2 separate regions of the Homo sapiens genome follow, and region 1 is linked to region 2. The links come from fine-mapping of genetic effects on gene expression. A gene starts in region 2. The other region holds a variant in brackets. All regions are shown on one strand. Distances are from middle to middle. Region 1 holds the start of TRL-AAG2-1 (tRNA-Leu (anticodon AAG) 2-1). Region 2 holds the start of TRIM7 (tripartite motif containing 7).

The links. PIP is the estimated chance that this variant, and not a neighbour inherited with it, causes the effect. A credible set is the group of variants that fine-mapping cannot tell apart.
Region 1: its variant is the best candidate, but not a certain one, in a credible set for the expression of TRIM7 in whole blood (INTERVAL, PIP 0.84).

Annotation. Positions count from the first base shown.
Region 1 is chr5:181,178,692-181,190,061 of GRCh38, forward strand. It overlaps TRL-AAG2-1 (tRNA-Leu (anticodon AAG) 2-1), which reads left to right and starts at 9,010; the gene lies at 9,010-9,091. It overlaps TRV-AAC2-1 (tRNA-Val (anticodon AAC) 2-1), which reads right to left and starts at 9,797; the gene lies at 9,725-9,797. It overlaps TRP-TGG3-1 (tRNA-Pro (anticodon TGG) 3-1), which reads right to left and starts at 10,234; the gene lies at 10,163-10,234. RefSeq lists silencers at 5,324-5,533, 5,487-6,154, 8,996-9,125, 9,716-9,915 and enhancers at 5,721-6,221, 9,966-10,175. The variant C/T (reference allele first, on the strand shown) is at 6,150.
Region 2 is chr5:181,198,897-181,210,266 of GRCh38, forward strand. It overlaps TRIM7 (tripartite motif containing 7), which reads right to left and starts at 6,300. Exons shown (of 7, transcript NM_203293.3): 1 at 5,693-6,300; 2 at 4,649-4,744; 3 at 955-1,185; 4 at 199-221. The coding sequence starts at 6,214. It overlaps TRIM7-AS1 (TRIM7 antisense RNA 1), which reads left to right and starts at 1,179. Exons shown (of 2, transcript XR_001743050.3): 1 at 1,179-2,120; 2 at 3,692-4,221. It overlaps TRA-TGC3-1 (tRNA-Ala (anticodon TGC) 3-1), which reads left to right and starts at 7,972; the gene lies at 7,972-8,043. TRK-CTT2-2 (tRNA-Lys (anticodon CTT) 2-2) reads left to right here and starts at 8,859; the gene lies at 8,859-8,931. RefSeq lists silencers at 3,453-3,747, 5,559-5,628, 5,669-5,998, 6,259-6,578, 7,883-7,982 and enhancers at 8,683-8,742, 9,123-9,212.

The sequences.
Region 1 (11,370 bases), 20 kb before region 2:
GAGAGAACAGAGTTACCTGTGTAATAGAAAACCAAGTCAAAAGGAAGAAAAATTAATGGTGGAGATAATTTTGTTTTTACCCAAAAATAAAAAATAAAAGCCGGGCACGGTGTCTCATGCCTGTAATCCCAGCACTTTGGGAGGCTGAGGTGGGCGGATCACCTGAGGTCAGGAGTTCAAGACCATCCCGGCCAACATGGTGAAACCCCATCTCTACTAAAAATACAAAAAATTAGCCGGGCATGGTGGCGGGCGCCTGTAGTCCCAGCTACTTGGGAGGCTGAGGCAGGAGAATTGCAGTGAGCTGAGATCGTGCCACTGCACTCCAGCCTGGACGACAGAGCAAGACCCTGTCTCAAAAAAATAAAATAAAATAAAAATAAAAAATAAAAAAATAAGGAAAGTGGGACTGCATGGGACTGGAGGGAGAGAGGTGGGTTAGAGCAAGTTTGGTTTTTTCCCTTTCCCTTGGTCAGCAAACTACCCTCAGGCCAAATCCAGCCTGCAACCTATTTCTCTCCAGCCCAGCGAGCTAAGAACATTTTTTACTGGTTAAAAAAATAAAAAGAATAATATTTCATGACATGTAAAAATTAGATGAAATTCAAATGTTGGTGTCTGTGAGTCAAGTCCCATTGGCACACATGTCCCATTGGCACACGGCGCCTCCCTCTCATTATGTGTCACCTTTACTGGCTTTGGCACCAAAAGGGCAGACGTGGGTACTTCCGACAAAACTGAAAAGATTCTGTACGTGGCCCTTGCAGAGAAAGCTTGCAGACCCCTGCTTTAGAGAGAGGAGGTATGAGAGTTTAGGCTTTGGTGTGGGTGGCTGGGGAGATCCCCTGGTTCAGGAAATGGTGATTCCAAGGGAAGTTGCTGTCTGGGTGCTGGTGCTGTCCTCCTCCTCTGTCCACCCCATATCTAATGCATTCTGAGCGCTCGCTGGGCAGTCAGTGCAGGGCGGGACAACAGTCACGTGTTGCTTCCCAAGACATACAGTCACGGGCCCCTTAACAACAAGGATGCATTCTGGGAAATGGTGATTAGGTGGCTCTTGGAAGGTGCACCTCATTTACCCCTAGGCTGGGTGGCATAGCCCATCGCTCCCACGAGTGACGTCTGTGCTACGACAGTACCACGGCTATGACATCCCTAGGCCATAGGAATTCTTCAGCTCCATCATAGTCATGGGACCACTGTCATGCACGTGTCCCTCCTTGCCTGGAAGGTTGCTGTGCAGCGCATGACGGCACTTCCATGTCAGCGGGTGCCTCGCTGGCCCATCTCCTGCCCCTGCTCACTCTGTCTGCCACCTTCCAGCAGCTCCCTGCCCTAAAGCCATCCTGATGCTGCTTTTCCGCCATTTCTTCCTCTGTGCATGTTACCCCAAACTCCACAGGGACTGCTGCTTGCTTGACATGCATTCTGGAACCTTCTGGGATCCTGTCCCAGTGCTCCCAAGGAGAAGCGGCAAGCAAGGGCCAACTCAGCCCAGGGCTGCCTCTGTCCAGGCCCTCTGTCCAGGTCGACAGGCATCTTCCCCTCCCCAGGGGGAGTGCAGGCTCCAGATGAGTTTCTGTCTCCCCAGCTGAGAACCTTTGTCTTGGTTCGGGTTGCTGTAACACAATACCATATGCCAGGCTGCTCAAACAATGACATTGATTTCTCACAGTTTCGCAGGCTGGAAGTCTAGATCAGGGTGCAGCACACTGCAGTTCTTGGTAAGGATCCTCTTCCTGATTTCTGCCCAGCTGCCTTCTCACTGTATCCCCACGAGAGAGGGAGAGGAACCAGCTCTCAGTCTCAGTTCTGTCTCCCTGTGAATCTGAGAGTGTGCTGAGGCCAGGAACCTTTGTCCCCTTAGCACCTAGACAGGATGTGGGACAGGAGTTAGGCACATAAATAAATGAATGAATGAATGGAAAGAAAATATATGATTGGTAATAATCCTTCATTGATTCAACAAGCCAACCCTGCACAGTCCTCACTCTCAGCTGGGGACATCCGTTGCAAAAGTTCAATCACCTCTGGCCCTGGCCAGTCCCAGGTGGCACCTCAGCTGTCACCAACCTGTCCCCTGACAGTGCCCTGGATGAGGCCACCAGCACCTCCCTCCTGACTCACAAGCATGGGGCTCTTCTAGCAGCCCTACTTGACTACTCTTGGATCTGTGGGGCTTTTGGTTCTCCGAAAGTCACTCACTCATTTATCAAAGGGGGACTTCATGTTCCACCTTTGACCCACAACTCTTTTGTACTATTTGCAAGACTCTGAGGCTTTTTTTTTTTTTTTTTTGAGACAGGGTTTCACTCTTTTTGCCCAGGCTGGAGTGCAGTGGCATCATCTCAGCTCACTGCAACCTCTGTCTCCCAGGTTCAAGTGATTCTCCTGCCTCAGCCTCCTGAGTAGCTGGGATTACAGGCACCCATCACCATGCCTGGCTAATTTTTTGTATTTTTAGTAGAGACGGGGTTTCACCATGTTGGTCAGGCTGGTCTTGAACTCCTAACCTCCAGTGATCCACCTGCCTCAGCCTCCCAAAGTGCTGAGATTACAGGTGTGAGCCACCACGCCCAGCCGAGTCTGAGCCCTTTTAAAGATGGGTGGCCATGGACTACCAGTCTGGTGAAAGTTATGGACTCCTTCTCAGAATAATGCTTTCTTTCTGTTTGTTTTTGGTTTTGGTTTTTTGAGACAGGGTCTTGCTCTGTTGCTAAGGCTGGAGAGCAGTGGGAAGAACCTAGCTCACTGCAGCCATGACCTCCTGGGCTGAAGGGATCCTCCCACCTCAGCCTCTCAAGTACTTGGGGCTACAGGTGCATGCCACCATTTCTGGCTAATATTTTGCATTTTTTGTAGAGATGGGGTCTCCCTATGTTGCCCTTGCTGGTCTCAAACTCCTGGCCTCAAGCGATTCAAATACCTTGGCCTCCCAAATAGCTGGAATTACAGCTGTGAGTCACACTGCCAGGACAATTACCATAATTTTTAAGTACTAATGAGCATAAGTGATATTTCAAAGTGCCTACAAGAACTATGATTTGACATGTGATATGAAAGGACCTGTGATTTCTTTGTGTTTTGCTGGTGTATGAGACAGAGTCTGCCTCTGCTGCCCAGGCTGGAGTGCAGTGGCACAACCTTGGCTCGCTGCAGCCTCCACCTCTGGGGCTCCTGCGATCCTCCCGCCTCAGCCGCATCTGTGATTTCCATTAGCAATAAAGGTCGTGTTAATTCTACTGTGGATTGCAGCCTCCTTTCTGAATGGAAAACCCTCTTTCAGTTCGTGATTAGGAAAAACATGAGTTCTGCTATTGTTCCCACCCAGATTCACAGATCCCCTGTTATCCCCGCCTCCTAGGAAAGGGAATCTTTCGGCCTTCTCGGGGCCAGGCCTTCACCTCCGCCTACAGGCAGGAGATGGCGCCAACAGCAAGAGGTTCCTTCTGACTGTGGCCTATAATTAGGTCAAGTGGCAGCATAGGTAGACGTGCAATCAGGGACTAAGTCTGCAGATGTGACTTGCATGAGGTGGGCATGACTGTGCTACGAGCATAACTAAGAACGTCTTCATCTTAGTGAGCGGGTGTTTTATGAGAGTGTGCACTAAGATGAGAAATCATCCACAGCATCCACTAAAAGAGGGTTTGGGGGCCTTAAGTCTGTGCACACATCCGCCCGCGGTGTCCGGGGAGAGAGTGCGAAGTGCCGGGTCCCTGCGAAGGTGCAGTTCCTGGAGGAGGCCCTCAGGCTCTCAGGACAGCGGATGCTGGGACTCCACATTCTCCTTCTGGTTTTCTCCTGGTCTCCTGTCACCCGTGGCAAGTGTCTCTCCTGTTGTTGTCGTTTTTATAAATAGAAACAAGGTCTCATTATGTTGCCCAGGCTGGTCTCAAACACCTGGACTCAATCAATCCACCCACCTCTCCCTCCCAAAAGTTCTGGGACTTCAGGTGTGAGCCGACGCACCCAGCCCTGTTCTATTTCTGATTATAATCCTGAGCTTTGTCCATGTGTCCCTTTAAGCTTGGCTAATGGGGCTGAGCACATAAGAAAAGGAACTACCAGACTTGGAACGCTGAGGCAGGAGGATCGCCGGAACCCAGCAGTTGCAGACCAGCCTGTACAACGTACGGAGACCCCATTTCTACTGAAACATAGAAGAATAAAAATCAGCCAGGTGTGGTGGCATATGCCTGTAGTCCCAGCTACTTGGGAGGCTGAGGTAAGAGACTCATTTGAGCCTAGGAGGTGGAGGCTGCAGTGAGCCGTGATCGCAGCACTGCGCTCCGGCCTAGGTGACAGAGGGAAACGTCTTGAACAAAAAGAAGAAAAGAAAGAAAAGGAAGTTTTCATGCCCGACGCGGTAGCATAAGGGGGCATGGGAGACCGGACGAGAGGGTGTGGCAGCGACCGCAGGGAGAGGAGACGGCGGACGCGGAACTGTGCGGGGTTGGCAGTGGGCTTGGGGGTGGCACAGCGGGGACGCGCTGGCACCGGTTTCTGAGAGGGGACATTCGGGAGAAGCTGCCTGGGGAATGGGAGGCCACGAGTTCGGGCGTGGAGACGGAGCTTCAGGGCCTGGAGAAAGGGGAGTGGAAATGACGGAGGAAGTATCCGTATCGCATCCTCGGTTTGCCCGAGAGATGTCTGTGCCGCCACGTTTACCGCAGCGCTGTTCACAATAGCCCAGATCTGCGAGCAAAGGCAGCGGCCGTCGGTGCAGGAGTGGGCGGAGGCACCGAGGTGGATGCGCAGCAGAGCACCACTCAGCCGCAAGAACACGATAATCCCGGCCGGGCGCGGGGGCTCACGCCTGTAATCCCAGCACTTTGGGAGGCCGAGGCGGGCGGATCACGAGGTCAGGAGATCGAGACCAGCCTGACCAACACGGTGAAACCCCGTCTCTACTAAAAATACAAAAATTAGCCAGGCGTGAAAAACACCAGGCGTAAAAACACACCACAGGCGCGGTGGCGGGCGCCTGTAGTCCCAGCTCCTCGGGAGGCTGAGGCAGGAGAATCGCTTGAACCTGGGAGGCGGAGCTTGCAGTGAGCGGAGATCACGCCATTGCACTCCAGCCTGGCGACAGAGCGAGACTCCATCTCAAAAAAAGAAAAAAATATATAGAATTTTGGCCCATTAACTACACTAGATATTTATTTCTCTATATAATCATTATGATGTTATACAGAGATTGAGCCACAAGGATAATCTTGCAATGGGGGGAAAAAAAAAATCTGAGTCTAAATGTTCAACAACAGTGGCTGCTTAGATATCTAGAGTTCTTCCAAACACTGGAACAATGAAAATGGTGTTGTGGGCTGTTTTCTTCTTCCCGCTGATACCAATCCTGCTGCGGTCTGGTTGTGGTATACAGGGAGTTCCGGCGGGCCCAGGTCCCCTCTCCTCCTGCAGCCCTGGGCCCGGGCTCCGCTGCGTCTGGCGCTGCAAGACCTGCGCGCCGAGATCCCGGGGCGAGGGACCCTGGGCGGCGCGATCTGCACAGCGCCGAGCCTGCATCGCGCCCCCGCCAGGACCAGAGCCGCGCCGCGGTGGAGTCCTGAGCGCCCCCGAGCGGTCACGTGTGCGGCGGCGACCCAAGAATTTGAAAGAGTCGCGGAAAACTGCACTCATCATAGAGCATCTGAAGGTTCCTAGAGGGAGCTGTGAACGGTTAACAAAAAACACGGCCATGGGGTCCCCTGGTGGCGTTTTGAAGGGCGACCCCTCCCCTACCCCAGCGCGGCCTGTGGCTCTTTGTTTACAATTTCATAAAGGCGAAAAATAAAATGTAGGAATGAGTGGCATCACAGTACCTTTGTTGAGTATTTTTTTCTTTTTCTTTTTACTATGGAATCTTTCCAGCGAAGTTAAGTACTTTTTAAAAGGCAAGTTACAAAACACAATGCAAAGTATTCTTATTAAAACATAGCTCGGGGCCGGGCGCGGTGGCTCACGCCTGTAATCCCAGCACTTTGGGAGGCTGAGGCGGGTGGATCATGACGCCAGAAGATCGAGACGATCCTGGCTAACACGGTGAAACCCCGTCTCTACTAAAAACACAAAAAAATGAGCCGGGCGTGGTGGCGGGCGCCTCTAGTCCCAGCTACTCGGGAGGCTGAGGCAGGAGAATGGCGTGAACC[C/T]GGGAGGCGGAGCTTGCAGTGAGCTGAGATCGCACCACTGCACTCCAGCCTGATCAACAGAGCGAGACTCCGTCTCAAAAACAAAAACAAAAACAAAACAAAACAAAACAAAAAAACCAAAAAACAACAAAAAAAGAGCTCGGCCAGGCGCGGTGGCTCACTCCTGCAATCCCAGCAGTTTGTGAGGCCTAGGCAAGAGGAGCTCGAGATCAACCTGGGCAATATGGCGAAACTCGTCTCTACAAAAAATACCAAAATTAGCCAGGCGTGGTGGTACGCACCCGTGGTTCTAGCTGCTCCGGAGCCTGAGGTGGGAGAATCGCTGGAGCCCAGGAGGTCGAGACTGCAGTGAGCTGTGTTTGTGCCACTACAGTCCAACCTGGGTGACAGAGCAAGACCCCGTTTGAAAAATAAATAAATATGTAAATGTAAATAAGTAAATAACATAGCTTGTCGAGCTGAGTAGGGTGGCACACGCCTGTAATCCCAGCTACTCAGGAGGCTGAGGCGGGAGGATGGATCGAGCACAGGAGGTTGAGCCCAGGTTGGGCTAAACTGCGTAAACCACCCCCAACCCCTGCCTCAAAAATATATATATATAAATATAAGACAAATAAGTTAAAGTATCCATGAAAATAGTCTTAAAAGCTCTAAAACAAAATAATAGCAATATGTGTGGCATGGTTGAGGACGCTTTTTATGTTCTTTAAGCTCATTTACTCTACTTTTTCTTCTTAGGTGTGTCTAATTATTCCACAGTGAGCACATGTTAATGAAAAAGGTTTAGTGTCTAAACGTAGAAATAGGAAATCCTCCGGAACTGAAAGAACAGGCTGGAGGGGACCGAACAGAGCCTGGCACGTGCTCCAGGAGCGCCTCGGGGGCTGAGCGCTGGTAGAGGCGGCCTCTGTCTCCCGATCACTCTGCAACACAACGGGATGCCCACCTAGCCTGAGGATGCCAAGTGGACACAGGAAGCCAGCGTGGCCACACAGCAATGAGGAAGCACAGGACCCCTCATCCCCTCCCAGGGGCTTCTTTCAACAAGTTACAAATACAAAGACAGGTAAGGAACTTGGAAAGGCGTTTCTGCTGGGAGGCTCTACCGTATTTGGTTCTCTGGCCTGAAACTGTCATAGAGAGAACTCGAAGGTGGCCCCTAAGATTCCCACCCGGCGCACACGCCCTGTAGACCACCTGCCTATGAGTGAACGTGATGGCATGTCACTCCCACAACCATGCCACATTTTACGGAACAAAGGATTGCGCAGCTGTGATTGAGGTTCCTGGTCAGTTGATTTTGATAAATCAAAAGGGAGATTATCCTGGGTGGGCCTGACTTAATCAGGTGAGCCCTTTAAAAGAAGGTGGAGTTCCAGAAACACCGTGCACCGCTGGCCTCAAGGAAAGGGGCCTCTGGTTGCCAAGAGTGGCCCTCAGCTGACAGCCAACAAGCAAACAGGAGATTTCAGTCCCACAGCCACAAAGAAATGCATTTTGTCAACAACCAGGGAGGCTGGAAGAGAACCCCCCTGCCTCAGATGAGGCTGCAGCAATGGCCAACATTGTGATGTCACCTGCTGCGGTATCAGTAGAAGATCTTGCTAACTTGTACTCCACAAAAAGCGAGATAATAAATCTGTGCTGTCTTAAGACACTAAGTGTGTGGTAATTTGTTACACACCAGTAAAATCTAAAACAATAGCCTTTCCAACTAAGAAAGTCATGTTTTAAGAAACAATTTTCATACAGATATATCTGTACTGTGTAAAGATTTCATATGTACAGAGATCTTAAGTGCGCATGGAATTGAATACACGTGTGTACCTATCATCCAGATCGAAAAGGAACATTTCCAGCATTACAAAAAATTCCTCATGTCCCTTGCAAGTCAGTACCTGCACCTCCTTCTCCCAAGTGACAGGATTTTTAACTTCTGTCACCATAGATTAGTTTGGCTCGTGTGTGAATGTCATATGTGGAATCAATAGAATGCAGATCGTTGGTGTCTGGCTGCATTTGCTCAACATTGATGACGGTGAAATCCGTCCATGCTGTTTGCAGCAGTAAGCTCATTATCAGTGTTATAATAATCCCATATAAGACTATATATATAATAAAAAAATAAAATAAAATAAGACTGTACACAATTTTATTTATCCAATGTGAAGATGGTGGGCATTTGGACTGTTTCCATAAGTGAGTTATTATGAATGAAGTTGCTAAGAACGTTTCTGCTCATGACTCATAAAGTCAATACATACTCTCAGTTTGTTGTCTGCTTTGTTGTTGTTGGGGCTTTTTGTTTGTTTTGTTTTGTTTTTGTTTGATTGGTTTTGGTACAGGGTCTTGCTCTGTCACCTAGGCTGGAGTGCAGTGGGGCGATCTCGGCTCACTGCAGCCTCGACCTCCTGGGCTCAGCTTCCTGAGTAGCTAGGACTATGGTCACACACCATCACGCCCGGCTAATGTTTACATCTTTTGTAGAGACAGGGTTTCGCCATGTTGCCCAGGCTGGGGTTTTTTGCTTGTTTTTCTTTAGGTTTTTATTTTATTTTATTTTTCATTGTATTTGTTTTTGATTTTTTGAAGTGAGAGTGTCGAAGTCTTCCCCTGCTCTGGAGTGCATTCCCCAAAGAGGGTGGCTTTATGACTGGCCTTCCTAAAGCAGATCCTGAGGCCTGGGCATTGAGAATCCTGTGTCAGGGCACTGGTGGAGCCGTTTCCCAGCCAGTGGCTTTGGCGGAGCGGATCCTGCCATGGTCCTGCCCTGTGGATTCGCCCCAACTCCCTGTTGGCCCAGAGCCCCTTCGCACGCTTCATAACTGAAGGAAAATATGTAAATACCCAGCGGCAAAGAGGTAGCGTGGCCGAGCGGTCTAAGGCGCTGGATTAAGGCTCCAGTCTCTTCGGGGGCGTGGGTTCGAATCCCACCGCTGCCAGTTTGTGGTAGTTTTGTCACTTTTGTCCCCTATGGGTTACAAAAGGAGTAATGGGCCCCACACATACTCGAGATGCGGGGTTCCATTTGGCAGCGTGCCGCTGTCCAGTGGATGAGCTCTGTGCCGAGCTTGTCCACAGCAAGTAAAACTGGATTGAGTTCACAGGTGCGGGTGGTTGGGAATGGAAAGCAAAAGCGTAGATGCCCTCTTCTCTTTGTGCCGCTGTGACCACCAGGTGGACATACTAGTGGGATCTTCTAGGTTAGTCTCCAGTGTAATAAGAGCGTGTAATGAGATAATAACCGCTTCGGGGCCGCGCGCGGTGGCTCACGCCTGTAATCCCAGCGCTTTGGGAGGCCGAGGTGGGCGGATCACCTGAGGTCCGGAGTTCGAGACCAGCCTGACCAACATGGAGAAACTCCGTCTCTACTAAAAATACAAAATTAGCCGGGCGTGGTGGCGCATGCCTGTAATCCCAGCTACTCCGGAGCCTGAGGCAGGAGAATGGCTTGAACCTGGGAGGCGGAGGTTGCTGTGAGCCGAGATCACTCCATTGCACTCCAGCCTGGGCAACAAGAGCGAAACCCCATCTCAAAAGAAAGGGGGGGGAAAAAAAAAAAAAACACTGTGGCATGTTTCCGCCCGGTTTCGAACCGGGGACCTTTCGCGTGTTAGGCGAACGTGATGACCACTACACTACGGAAACCCACACCTACCTCTGTCGCCATAATATTGTCTGCTAGCAGCTACTCTCCGGGTACGTTCGACAAGTGATCCCTAGCTGTAAAAGGAGAGCCCCCACAACCCTCAAGAGCATACTCTCACGTGCAGGTCTGTGCCCAAAGTCTTCACAGCAACTGTTGCTTCCGGGACGGCTCGCTTAGTCTCCTATCCACGATTCTTTCCAATCCCCAGCACTCCCGGAAATCTTGGTGATGCCTCCGCTGGACATCTTTCGGGATCAAAACTGTCAAGGTAACACAAAATTTAGTTGAAATTTAAAAAGCTGGCTCATCCAGGATTTGAACAAGAAGAACTTCAGTTGAAATGGAAAAAAAAAAATGAAAAAGTGGGCTCGTCCGGGATTTGAACCCGGGACCTCTCGCACCCAAAGCGAGAATCATACCCCTAGACCAACGAGCCGGCTGTCTAGTTGCTCGCTGAATCTTTTCATGATTGTGTTCTTCATGGCTCGATTCACCGAAAAGGCGGATTTCCGTCTGGCAGCTTGAACCCATTCTCAAGGTCTTATAGTCTCCCAAGCCCAACTTGTCCCCGCTGCCCATCTCCGCGTCTGCCACTAATTCTCAGCCGCAGGTAGCTCCACACAGGGTAAACGCTCCCTATGTCCTGTGTCCTCTGGTCTCCTGGAATCCGAATGAGCGCCTCCCTGCTCGATCCACTCGAGTAGCAGGCAGGAGCGTCCATCCGTTCTGCAGCCTGGGCGCCCCTTCCCAAGCGAGTCCAAGAAAGGCGCAAATCTTGAGGCCCAGGGGCAGGACACAGAGGTTGGTAGAGCCGGAGGGCTCGGGAGAGAGCGCAGTGCTGAGAGGGAAGGAACGCCGGACCGGCTGGGTGAGGAGCCCCCAGAAGCCGCTCTTACCGTTTTATGAAAAGATAATAAACAGTGCATACCCATTTGCAAAATCTTCAGGAAATGTAGGAAAGTGTAAGGCGGAAACGACCGATGACCAGGAACTCTGTCTTCTCGTGGAGACTCTAGCCACGGGGTTGTTGCACAGCTCGGAGGCTGGGACCCACGCGCGCGCGCTCCCGCGGTGCAGAGTCGGGGTCCTGGCTCACAGCCCTCGCAGCATTCTCCCGGGATTGCCCCCGGGCCGCCTCCAGCACAGGGCAAGCCTGAGGCTCGAGCTGGGCGGGCGCGCTCCTCTTTTCTCGCCTCAGACCTACTCTCGCCCTGCGCACTTTAATTGCACTGGTTTATTTAGTAGTAAAAATAGTGATGCGGTTTCCTGCTGTAAAATTCGCGATAATCTACTCAGAGCTGATGCACAGGTTTATTTTTGTGTCACCAGCAGAGACATTTCCTACACTGCTGTAAAACAGCGTGGGATGGTGGTTAAGCTACTCCGAGGAAACAATGCTCATTTTTCCATTCGCACGCTCGGCGATCTTGCTCCGCCGTCTGCGACCGCCACTGTCCTCGCCCCTCCTCTCTGCCTCTCCACGCTGGACTCCCCTGGGTGCCGTGGCTGGCTTTCGGCTCTTCCAGCAGTGAACATTTCAGGTGAACGGACCCGCCCCAAGGGTCCTCCCCA
Region 2 (11,370 bases):
AGAGGTAGAAAAGGGAGAGCCAGACCTCATGCAGAAAAACCCATGGCCAGGCAGGTGGGCGTTTGTCTCGGAAGGTCCCCAGGCAAGCAAGTCGGGGGATCAGGAGGTGAGAGGTCAGGGGACAGGGAATAAAGACAAGGCTCAGTGAAAAGGGAAGAAGCAACTTAGAGAGGCCCCAGGAGCTGTGAGGTCACTCACCTGCTCAGCGTGCTTTTGAATTCCTGGAAGGAAAGATAGAGGAAACCAAATCAGCATCAGGTAACCTCCATTCACCTCTGAGAAACAAAGCTTGCCCCTTGCTGTGCCTCCCAGATGTAAGCATAAGCAAGTGTGCCACGCCTCACTGCCTGCGTGGGCCTCAGGGGCAGCAGCTTCCAGTGGCTGCTGGCTGCAGGGTGTCTCACCCACGCAGTGGACCTCTCACCCTTTGCCACAACTCTTCACGTGCTTTCTTTCTATCTTTGCTGCTTTCTTAGTTACAGAATCATCACTGGAGCTATCCCATGGGACCCAGTGCTGCGTGTGTCCTGGAAACCACCTGAGGGAGGTCACAGCCCTTATGCACCTACTGCTCACTCAGCCCCATAATGACTGTTCTTAACCCATCTATGGATTGTGAAGTTTATCTAGTTGTTTATAACTTTTTTTTTAGCGAAATAGAATAGAAAACATCAAAGTGCATACGTGTAGCAAAGGTGAGTATTATTTTCTGAGACTTTTGTCTCAAGCTTGTGATTCTGAAATACGATATATATTATTGTGGCTCATAGTCAAGAAAGTTTTCACATCTCTCTAGACCTCCAACCCCAGGAAAATCAGGGCACTTCTCTCCAGTCCCCTTCAGCTCCAGATCATGTGATTCTCCTAGACCCCCCAGGACTGACACTGTTCTCTAGCTGCTGGTCCTGATGCCTTAGGATAAATGACTCGAGCCCCTGGCTGAGCCAGACTTACCTGGAGAAAGTCAAGGTCAGGCTTTTGAGCTGTCTCCTGGATCTGGCTGCTGAGCTTGGACAGCTGGGTGATCTCAACCCCGAGCTGGGCCAGGTTCTCATTCTGCTTCTGTGCCACCTCCCGGGACAGTTCCTCCAGGCGGCCTAGCAGCCGACCCTCCTGCTCCACCAGGAAAGCCCTCAGTGCCTGGAACTCTGCCCCCACCTTCTCCTGCTCCGCTGCCATCTGTTTCTGTCCCAGGAGGAGAAGTTGGAGAGGGACTTGAACATGGAGACATAACATTTGGCCAGTGGCCTGAGTCATCCCACAGGGCAAGGCTTCGTCCCTGTCACTGCTGGAGGATCGGAGACACACCCACCTACGCACGCAGTGCGTGCTCTATTGTCAGTGTCCCAGCTCTGAACAAGCTGTAGTCTGGACACATGCTCTTTTCTCCCCTGCCACAGATGCACCCACACATGTCTGTGGACCTGTGCTCCATCACCTAAACCAAGGCAGCTTCATACTCCCCCCAGAACTACGCCAAGCTGCAGCTTCCTCACTTGAAAAGCAGAAGGGATAAATTAGTGCCTCCTGGGGCAACCATAGGATTAAACTGAGATTGCTTTTTCTTCCTCAAGCACATTTATTTCATCACCCTCAAACTTTTACACTTCACTTTCTTTTTAAAGGCCATCTTTCCTGTTTAGCAGTTATAATGCTAACACATGCTCAAAATACAAAACTTGGGAGATGTAGGAAAGTAGAAAGAAGGAAGAAAAGTCCGATGCCAGTGACCAGAGGTAGCAGCACACCCCCAAGGAACGAAGTGAGAATATGCGGCATGCAAGTGTCATATTCTGTTCTTTCCATTAACAGCATACACCGGATTTTTTACTCGAGTTTTCAGATGCAGACTCATGCCCTGATCTCTTGATTTTTTATGTGAACACACGTTTGGCACTCAATATGTCCCACCAGGAAGTTCCTCTTCCTTAAAACTCCTGGGCGGAGGAAGGGAGTCCTGTGAAGTTGGGAGACCTGGGTTCAAGGTGTCCTACAATGCCCCCACCTTTCCTTCAGCTTCCAGGCAGGCTGCAGTAGCCTGGAGCGCCTTATGGATATTAACTCCCTCAACCCTGACGGCAGCCCAGTGGGGAGGGTGCACTTCCCTTCAAGTCTTACAGGTGAGGAGACAAAAGACAGACACATCACCAGGAAGTGTTAAGCCAGGCTTCTCGGCCAGTTGCCTCACAAGGAGGTAGCACAAGTGAAACAGTATTTGCCAAAATACTCTAAGCCAGGGTTTCCCAACCTTAACACAGTTGACATTTTGGGCCAGATACTTCTTGGTTGTAGGGGGCTGCCCTGTGCCTTGTAGGACATTTAGCCGCCCCTCTGGCCTCTACCACGAAATGCCAATAGCATCCCTATCCCATTGTTGACAACCAAAAATATAGTATCTCCAGACTTTGCCAGATGTCCCCTGGGGTAGGAGCATTTTCAAATAAGAGCATTCCTTCTCCCTTTTGTGTTGCAGCAATAGTTGGGCTCTACCTCTGATGTTTCATTAAGCAGGGTATTGTAAATGAGACAAGTGTCATAAATCCAGAAGTATTTTATTGCTGCAAAGAACAGGTAGAGCTCACACCTGTCATCTCAGCACTTTGGGAGGCTGAGGGGGGCAAAGTCAGGGGAGAAGGTTGCTTGAGCCCACGAGTTCCAGACCAGCCTGGGCAACACAGGAGACTACCCCCAACCCCAGCTCTACAAAAAATAAATTAAAAATTAGCCGGGTGTAGTAGTGCACACCTGTAGTCCCAGCTACTCAGGAGGCTGAAGTGGGGGGATCGCTTGAACGACTCCAGCCTTTGTGACAAAGTGAGACTCTGTCTAAAAGCAAAGCAAAACAAAACAACAACAAAAACGAATGTGGGGGTGGATGGATGGATGTTGGGAGAGGACAGAGGTGGAAGGTGTTAAGCAAGGCCTGGGGACTCCGGTCAGAGACTGTGAAGCTGCCGCCGGTGCCAGGGAAGGCCCTCTGGTTCCTGGATGTCAACCAGTGGGGGAAGAGCTGCATTGGGAGTCATTTCTCCAGTGGAGGAGGGATGAAGGTCTAGAGGGTGAGCTCTTCCTCATGGAGGAAAGTGAGTGATGAGGTAGGAAGGTCTGGGATGCACACTGGGTGCAGGCATAACAGATATAGTTGAGGGTCTGGAAAGGACCCTAGGGTGTCTGAACTCCAGGCTCCTCCTCCACCCCTCCTGACATTGAGGATGGGAGGGTCCTCTAGTTCACCTTCCTTCAATTCCCTGCCTTGACAGGTCCTAGTAGATCCTTTCATTCTTTTTTTTTTTTTTTTTTGAGATGGAGTTTCACTCTCGTTGCCCAGGCTGGAGTGCAGTGGCATGATCTTGGCTGACCGCAACCTCTACCTCCCGGGTTCAAGTGATTCTCCTGCCTCAGCCTCCCGAGTAGCTGGGATTACAGGCATGTGCCACCACGGCAGGCTAATTTTGTATTTTAAGTAGAGATGGGGTTGCTCCATGTTGGTCAGGCTGGTCTGGAATTCCCAACCTCAGGTGATCCGCCCACCTCGACCTCCCAAAGTGCTGGGATTACGGGCGTAAGCCACCGCACCCAGCCAATCCTTTTATTCTTTCAACACCTATTTACTGAGCTAGGAACTGAATTTGCAAGGTAGAAAATGACCGATGGTGATTCATGTTTGCTTATCTTTTTTTTTTTTTTTAAGGTGGAGTCTCGCTCTGTCTCCCAGGCTGGAGTGCAGTGGCGCGATCTCGGCTCACTGCAAGCTCTGCCTCCCGGGTTCACACCATTCTCCTGCCTCAGCCTCCGGAGTAGCTGGGACTACAGGCGCCCGCCACCACGCCCGGCTATTTTGTATTTTTAGTAGAGACAGGGGTTTCACCGTGTTTGCCAGGACGGTCTTGATCTCCTGACCTCGTGATCCGCCCACCTCGGCCTCCCAAAGTGCTGGGATTACAGGCGTGAGCCACCCTGCCAGGCCTCATGTTTGCTTATCTTAACCAAAATGAGCCCTCGTTTCACTTTCCTGTTCTACCCTAAGGAAGATAAAATATCATTCCAACTTGGGGTAGAGGCAGGTGCCAGTACCCAAGACCCTGGGCTGTGCAGCAGGGGCTACTGTAAACCCAAGACCCTAAACTTCCTCCCTCTGCCAGAGCCAGGGAGCAGCTCTGACGCCCTCTAGCCCCTTCTCCGTTAGCCTCGATTTCAAATAAAAACACTGTGAACATGAAATTTTTTTCACTACTGTTTTGTTGACAAAACATGCCATGAGGCTCTTTATTGTATTAATATTCCCACTTATTGAATATCCATGTTTCTCTGCAGAAATAGTAATGTGTTCCATTACAAGATGCTTCCGCAGGCCCTAACTGGTATGTTACGTAATATCAGAGTGACTGAGCGTCCTGATTCGCTGGGACAGCTCCAGTTTAAGCCAGTTGTTTTGCAATAATTATTTTAGCACTGCTTTTCACTTTAAAAAGCTCTGGTTTGTACAACAATTATGTGGACACCCTATATAATATGGACTCTATTATCTTTCTGAAATCGATTCTGCGGTTCCATAGCACACACTCCAACACCACACACACCGAGCCCTGGTGCTGAGTTCTCAGGCCTCTGTAATGTCCCACGGGGGGCCTGCGGGTGCCTGGCTCACCAGCAGCTCCTTGCTCTCCTTCTTTTCCGTGGACCGGAACACCTCACAGTCCTCCAGTTCCTTCTTCAAGACCCTCAGCCTGGACTCCAAGAGCTCCTGTAGATGAAGGGAAACAATGTAAGGTGGGGGTGAGGGGCTTCTGGAAACCCCCACCTCTGCCTTCCTGGAGCCAGCCAGGAGAAAGGGAAGGCCCTGCTCACTGAGGGGGAGGCCGGGTAGAAGTCATCTCTACAGGCTACAGGTTACACTGCGAGGTGACTCTGAAGGTCTCGGGATCTTGCTTCCCCAAAAGCATCTGCTGGACCAGCCAGACTGAAACACAAGCTCCGGCAGCCCTACCCCTAGTCGTCTCCTCTACTCTCCGCCCCCCCACCAGGAAGCCCCGTGGCTGGGAGAGTTGGAGCAGGATGGGCCAGCAAGGAGAGACTGGGGACTGCCGCCCGAGCCTCCCCGCCCCGCCCTCACCCCTGCACACACCCTCGCTGAGGCTCAGCGAGAAAATAGCAAAGAAAGGGCCCCCAGAATCGACAGCGTTGGCACAGTCAGACGGCTCTAGGTGCGCGGCTTAACCCGGGAGCCCCCTCCCTGGACATCTTGGCGAGGTCCTCTCACTCAGTTCCACGAGGTGGGGACTTTGAGCAGAGCCCGCTTCGGGGAAAGAGATAAGAGTGGGGGCAGCGGCTGCGTGGCTGTGCCGGAGACTTCCCGCGGGCAGAGAGCTGCGGAGACGCAGACCAGGCTAGAGGCTCCGAACAGACAGGAAGAACATCGCCAAGTCCGTGGGGGACGTCGCGCAGGCGGCCCAGTATCTGGCCCAGAGGGAAACGCAGTGGGGGTGGGGTGGGGGTATTGGTGATGTTGGGGGTGACAGAGAACCGCGCTCAGCCCGGGAACCAGCGCTGGGCTTCCTGGAATGGAGAAAGAAGGGAGGGGCTCACCCGGGCCTCCTGATCGACAGGCTGTTCTCTGCACCCCGTGCGCGGGAGCGCGGGACCAAGTCAGGGGGTCCCGGGGACCCACGGGGTGGGTGGGGGCTGCGCTCACCTTGGCCTCCTGCACCGCCTCGTCCAGCGGCAGCACGGCGTGCTCGCGGTGCTCGCGGGCGCGGTCGCACACCACGCAGATGGCGCGTCCGTCGTCCTGGCAGTAGAGCTTGAAGGGTTCGCCATGCTGCCCGCAGCGGGCAGCCGCTGCCCGGGCCGCGGCCGCCTGAGACCCGTGCTCTCCCGGGGCAGCCGCGGGCAGGCTGAAGCGCCGCAGGAGCGTGGCCACTGCCGCCAGCTGCCGGTTGGGCCGCAGCTGACTGGGGCGCGCGGGCTCGCGGCACTGCGGACAGGGCAGTGGGAAGGGGGGCGCGCGGGTGGCGGCCCCAACAGACCCCGCGCCCGGGCGCTCCCAGCAGCGCCCTATGCAGGCGCGGCAGAAGCTGTGGCCGCACTCGACGGACACCGGCTCACGAAAGAGCTCTAGGCAGATGGAGCACGTCGCCTCGCCCTGCAGCTCTGCCGCCAGCGCTAGAGCCTCGGCGCCGGTTCCGGGGCCGGTCCGCGGTCCCACAGCCGCCATGCGCGCTCTCCGCGCACCCAGATCTGGTCGCGCCTGGGCGGCCACTGGACCTCACAGGACGCGGAGCTGGGCGCCGAGGGCCCACTGGGAGAGGAAGGGCGGGGCTGCCACTGGGCAGGCAGAGACTCGAGCCCGGGGCGCGCCCGGCTGGGAGCCGGGAGGGGAGGCGCACGTTGACTACGGGCCATTCAAGTGCGGGACAGCGCCCTGCGCCCCGGATCTGCGCTCCACCAGCCCCCGCCCTGGCCAGCGGCCTCTCCCCCTCGCCCCCGTCCCTCAGACTCTCCAGGCCGCCCCAGCCTGACCCAGTCAGCCGCGGGAAACGGGCCGCGACAGGTGGGCGCACAAATGCTGCCAGCGCCACTCCCGGTTTCCGACCGAGGCCGACCCAGCATCGCCGGGGCAAGGGCCTGGCGCTCGGGCCACGGTGTCAGGTTCCGCCAGCGCAGGTTCGCCCCGGCCCTGTGCTGAGTTAAATTTAGAGACTGGAACCTGGTCCTGTCCCCTCACGCGCAAGCGTGGCCTTGTATCCATTCCATTACCTTTTCTGCGACTGTCCTCCGGCTTCTTTACTCTTTACTTAGTATTTGAACAGATAACACATTTATAATTTCCCATTGTATTCAGTATTATTCCCCCCCCACCGCACACACACACACACACACACACACACACACAAACCTCAGCGCTCTCTTGTCCCCCAGCTGTCTCCACAGCCCCGCAGCAGAGCTGCCTGTGTTATCCGCTTCCACACCCTCTCTCCTCGCTCACTCTGGAGGCCACTTGGATCAAGCTTTCGCCCGCACCCTCCTCAGAAACCGCCCTTGCCAATGTCACCGGGAACTTCAGCAATTCTCACCCAAAGGCGAAGACCTCGCCTCACCTCATCTGCCCCCGGATGCTCCCTCCTTCCCGACTTCCCTTCTCAGGGCCTTCCAGGACCCAGTGTCCCCGATCTTCTTGCTGTTCCTGAACCCCGTGGCCTCTGCGCTGGCTGTTCCCCTTGCGTGGACCTCTTTTCTCCCACCACCTGCATGCTCCCTCCCACCTCATTCAGGTCTTGTTTCAAACGTCTCTGCCCACGAAGCCCGCCCCGAACGCGCACACTGTGTAAAGTCGTCTCTTAGCGCGCTCCCTTCTCAGGGCCGGCTCTGTGCCCGCACTCTATCTCCTCTGGAATGTCAGCTTTCAGATGGACTGTACTAGGTTTGTTCACGGCTGAATCCTGTTTTTAGAGCAGTTCTTGGCAAGCTCAGTAAGGTTTTCTTGGATTAAACTTGGTTCGAAATTCAAAAGAGGAGCCGCAGTTCACGGTGGAAAGTAGGCCCATCGCCTGTGTCCCAGTCCTTTCTTCCTCCCGAGCAATCAACTTTACAATTCTGGATTACGTTAATCAAATATTCCGTATTTTATTGCCTCAACCCCCACTTTTAAAAAACAAAACGTAGCATCCTGCACAATTTTCCTTTCTTCTCTTTTTCAGGTCACAGTTCATTTTTGGCATCGTGCCTGATGATTGTCTCTCCTTTTTCCACAGCTGCTCCCAGGTGCTTAGCCGGGCCTAATCCTCTCTCTTGGAATCCCTTGGTCAAGACCCGCTGGTTTGGAGTCAGCGGAGGACGCTGGAACAACTCTTGCCCTGCGATGCCGGGTTTTTGCAGCGGCTGAGACCCAGCGCGTACCGGTTGCCTTCCACTCCCGGTGTCCTGAGTTAAGCGACCAATAGGGACCATCTGGGAGAGCTGCTGAGAGTAGGTGGGGATGTAGCTCAGTGGTAGAGCGCATGCTTTGCATGTATGAGGCCCCGGGTTCGATCCCCGGCATCTCCAGTGTAGTTTTGCACATTCAATTATTGTTTTCGATTTTCCTTTCAAATTTTGAAATCCAGCATGTTTGAAGAGCTCCAAGAAAAAACCCAGAGGGTGGAGTCTGCGGAGTAGAAAAAGACCGCGGCGGCCCCTGCCCTCCTCTGGGCCCCATTGTCTTTCCCTCCTGTTTTAAAATCCACACGGTACTTGACCGGGTGAGGTAGCTCACGTCTGTAATCCCAGCACTTTGGGAGGCCGAGGCGGGTGGATCACGAGGTCAGGAGTTTGAGGCCAGCCTGACTAACATGGAGAAGCCCCGTCTCTACTAAAAATACAAAAATTAGCCGGGAGTGGTGGCACACGCCTGTAATCCCAGCTACTCAGGAGGCTGAGGCAGGAGAAGTGCTTGAATCCAGGAGGCAGAGGTTGCAGTGAACCGAGATTGCGCCACGACACTCCAGCCTGGGCGACAGAGCCGCAGTTCGTGGTGAAAGGTAGGCCCATTTTTTGAGAGTCTTCTCTGTCAAAAAAAAAAAAAAAAAAAAAATCCACACGGTGAGAGCTCCAGTGGCGTCAGGGTGCACGTTTCTCCATCTCCGTGCCGTGAGCTTCATCGCGGGTAGAAAATGGCTTGGTCGCTGGTAGGGTAGAAGGGGCAGGAAACGGACGTAAGTGGGAGGGACGGTCAGGCACTGACGGCAGAGTTTGAATTTCCCAGGAGCCGAGGCACTTTAGTAGTTTTATCACACTCCAAATAAATCCAAGTTCAAACCCGCAGTTGAATACACTCCGACTCTGATCTAGAATGAAAAATTGTTGAGATACGGTCATCGGGCGCCCGGCTAGCTCAGTCGGTAGAGCATGAGACTCTTAATCTCAGGGTCGTGGGTTCGAGCCCCACGTTGGGCGGCAACTGGTCGTTTTAGTCCTAAATCTACGACTACTAGCCATACCTAAAAATATATTATAAGTAGACCAGCTCTTAGGAAAATAATCTGCTCTGAAGTCTTGCATTTCTGTGTGTGTAATACTCTTGCGGGCGCTCCACTGTTCATTATCTACCCATTATCTTGCGATACAATTAGGATTTAAAGCTGTGGTAAAATATGCCCAACAAAATTTAACACTTTTTAACTGTACAGTTCTGTAGCATTAAATACATTTAAATGGTTGTGCATCAGTCTCCAGTCCTTTTTCCTGTTTCCCAGATGAAACTCTGAACCCATTCAGCATTAACTCTCCATTCCCCTCTGCCCACAGACGCTGGCAACCACCATTCTACTTTCTGTGTCTTTGAATTTGACTCCTCTAGATACCTCATATAAGATGAATCGTGCAATATTTCCTTTTTAAATTGTCTTATTTCACTTAATGTCTTCAAGATTCATCCTTATATTTCCTTTTTAAATTGTCTTATTTCACTTAATGTCTTCAAGATTCATCCTTATTGTAGCATGTGTCAAAATTTCCTTCCTTTTAAAGCTGATTAGCATTCCATTGCACATATATACCACATTATCCATTCATCTGCCAATGGACACTTGGTTCCTTCCTCCTTTTGGCTACCGTGGATAATGCAGCTATGAACATGAGTGTACAGATATCTGTTTGAGTTTAGGCTTTCTATTTTTTTAGAGTATACATCACAAAGTGAAATTACTAGGTCATACGGCATTTCTGTTTTTGCGGAAGTGTCATACCATTTTCCACAGAGGCTACATCACAAATGAGCTTTAAAAAACATCTTTCGACCTGGCGCGGTGGCTCACGCCTGTAATCCCAGCACTTTGGGAGGCCGAGGCGGGCGGATCACGAGGTCATGAGATCGAGACCATCCTGGCTAACACGGTGAAACCCCGTTTCTACTGAAAAAAAAATACAAAAAATTAGCCGGGGGTGGCGGGCGCCTATAGTCCCAGCTACTCAGGAGGCTGAGGCAGGAGAATGGCGTGAACCCGGGAGGCGGAACTTGCAGTGAGCCAAGATCGCACCACTGCACTCCAGCCTGGGCGACAGAGAGAGACTCCGTCTCAAAAATTAAATTAAATTTAAAAAAAACATCTTTCGGCCGGGCCCAGTGGCTCACGCCTGTAATCTCAGCACTTTGGGAGGCCGAGGCGGGTGGATCGCCTGAGGTCAGGAGTTCGAGATTAGCCTGACCAATATGGTGAAACCCTGTCTCTACTAAAAATACAAACATTAGCCGGGCGTGGTGGCACGCGCCTGTAATCCCGGCTACTCGGGAGGCGGAGGTTGCAGTGAGACGCGATTGCGTCACTGCACTCCAGCCTGGGCGACAGAGCAAGATTCCGTCTAAAAAAAAAAAATTAAAAAATACAAACGGGCCTTGTGGTGGACGCCTATAATCGCAGCTACTCGGGAGTCTGAGGCAGGAGAATCACTTGAACCCAGGAGGCAGAGGTTGTAGTGAGCTGAGATGGCGCCACTGCACTCCAGCCTGGCGGACAGAGCGAGATTCCGTCTCAAAAAAAAAAAAAAGCCGGGCGCGGTGGCTCACGCCTGTAATCCCAGCACTTTGGGAGGCTGAGGCGGGTGGATCACGAGGTCAGGAAATCGAGACCATCCTGGCTAACACAGTGAAACCCCGTCTCTACTAAAAACACACAAAAATATAGCCGGGCGTGGTGGCGGGCGCCTGTAGTCCCAGCTACTCGGGAGGCTGAGGCAGGAGAATGGCGTGAACCCGGGAGGCGGAGCTTGCAGTGAGCAGAGATGGCGCCACTGCACTCCAGCCTGGGAGACAGAGCGAGACTCCGTCTCAACAACAACAAAAAAACCCAAAAACAAAAATCTTTCGGCTGAGCGCGGTGGCTCATGCCTGTAAATCCCAGCACTTTTAGGAGGATTGCTTGAGGCCAAGGGTTCGGGAGCAACCTAGCCAGACCCTCATCTTTAAAATAAAAATTAAAGAACATTAAAATATAAAACAGAATTCAGTGAAAAGTGTTTAACTCCCCCTTAAAATTTCAATTTTATATTTTTGTACATATTCTTCCAGAAATTTTGATGCAAGTAGTTTTTTTTGGGGGGGGGGCTGGGTAAGGAGGGGGAACAGAGTCTCTTGATCTGTCGCCCAGACTGGAGTGCAGTGGCGAGATCTTGACTCACTGCAACCTCCACCTCCCGGGTTGAAGCGATTCTCTGCCTCAGCCTCCCGAGTAGCTGGGACTATAGGTGCCTGCCACCACGCCTGGCTAATTGTATTTTTAGTAGAGACAGGGTTTCACCATTTTGTCCAGGCTGGTCTCGAACTCCTGAACTCAGGTGATCCGCCCGCCTCGTCCCCTTAAAGTGCTGGGATTACAGGCGTGAGCCACAGCGCTCGGC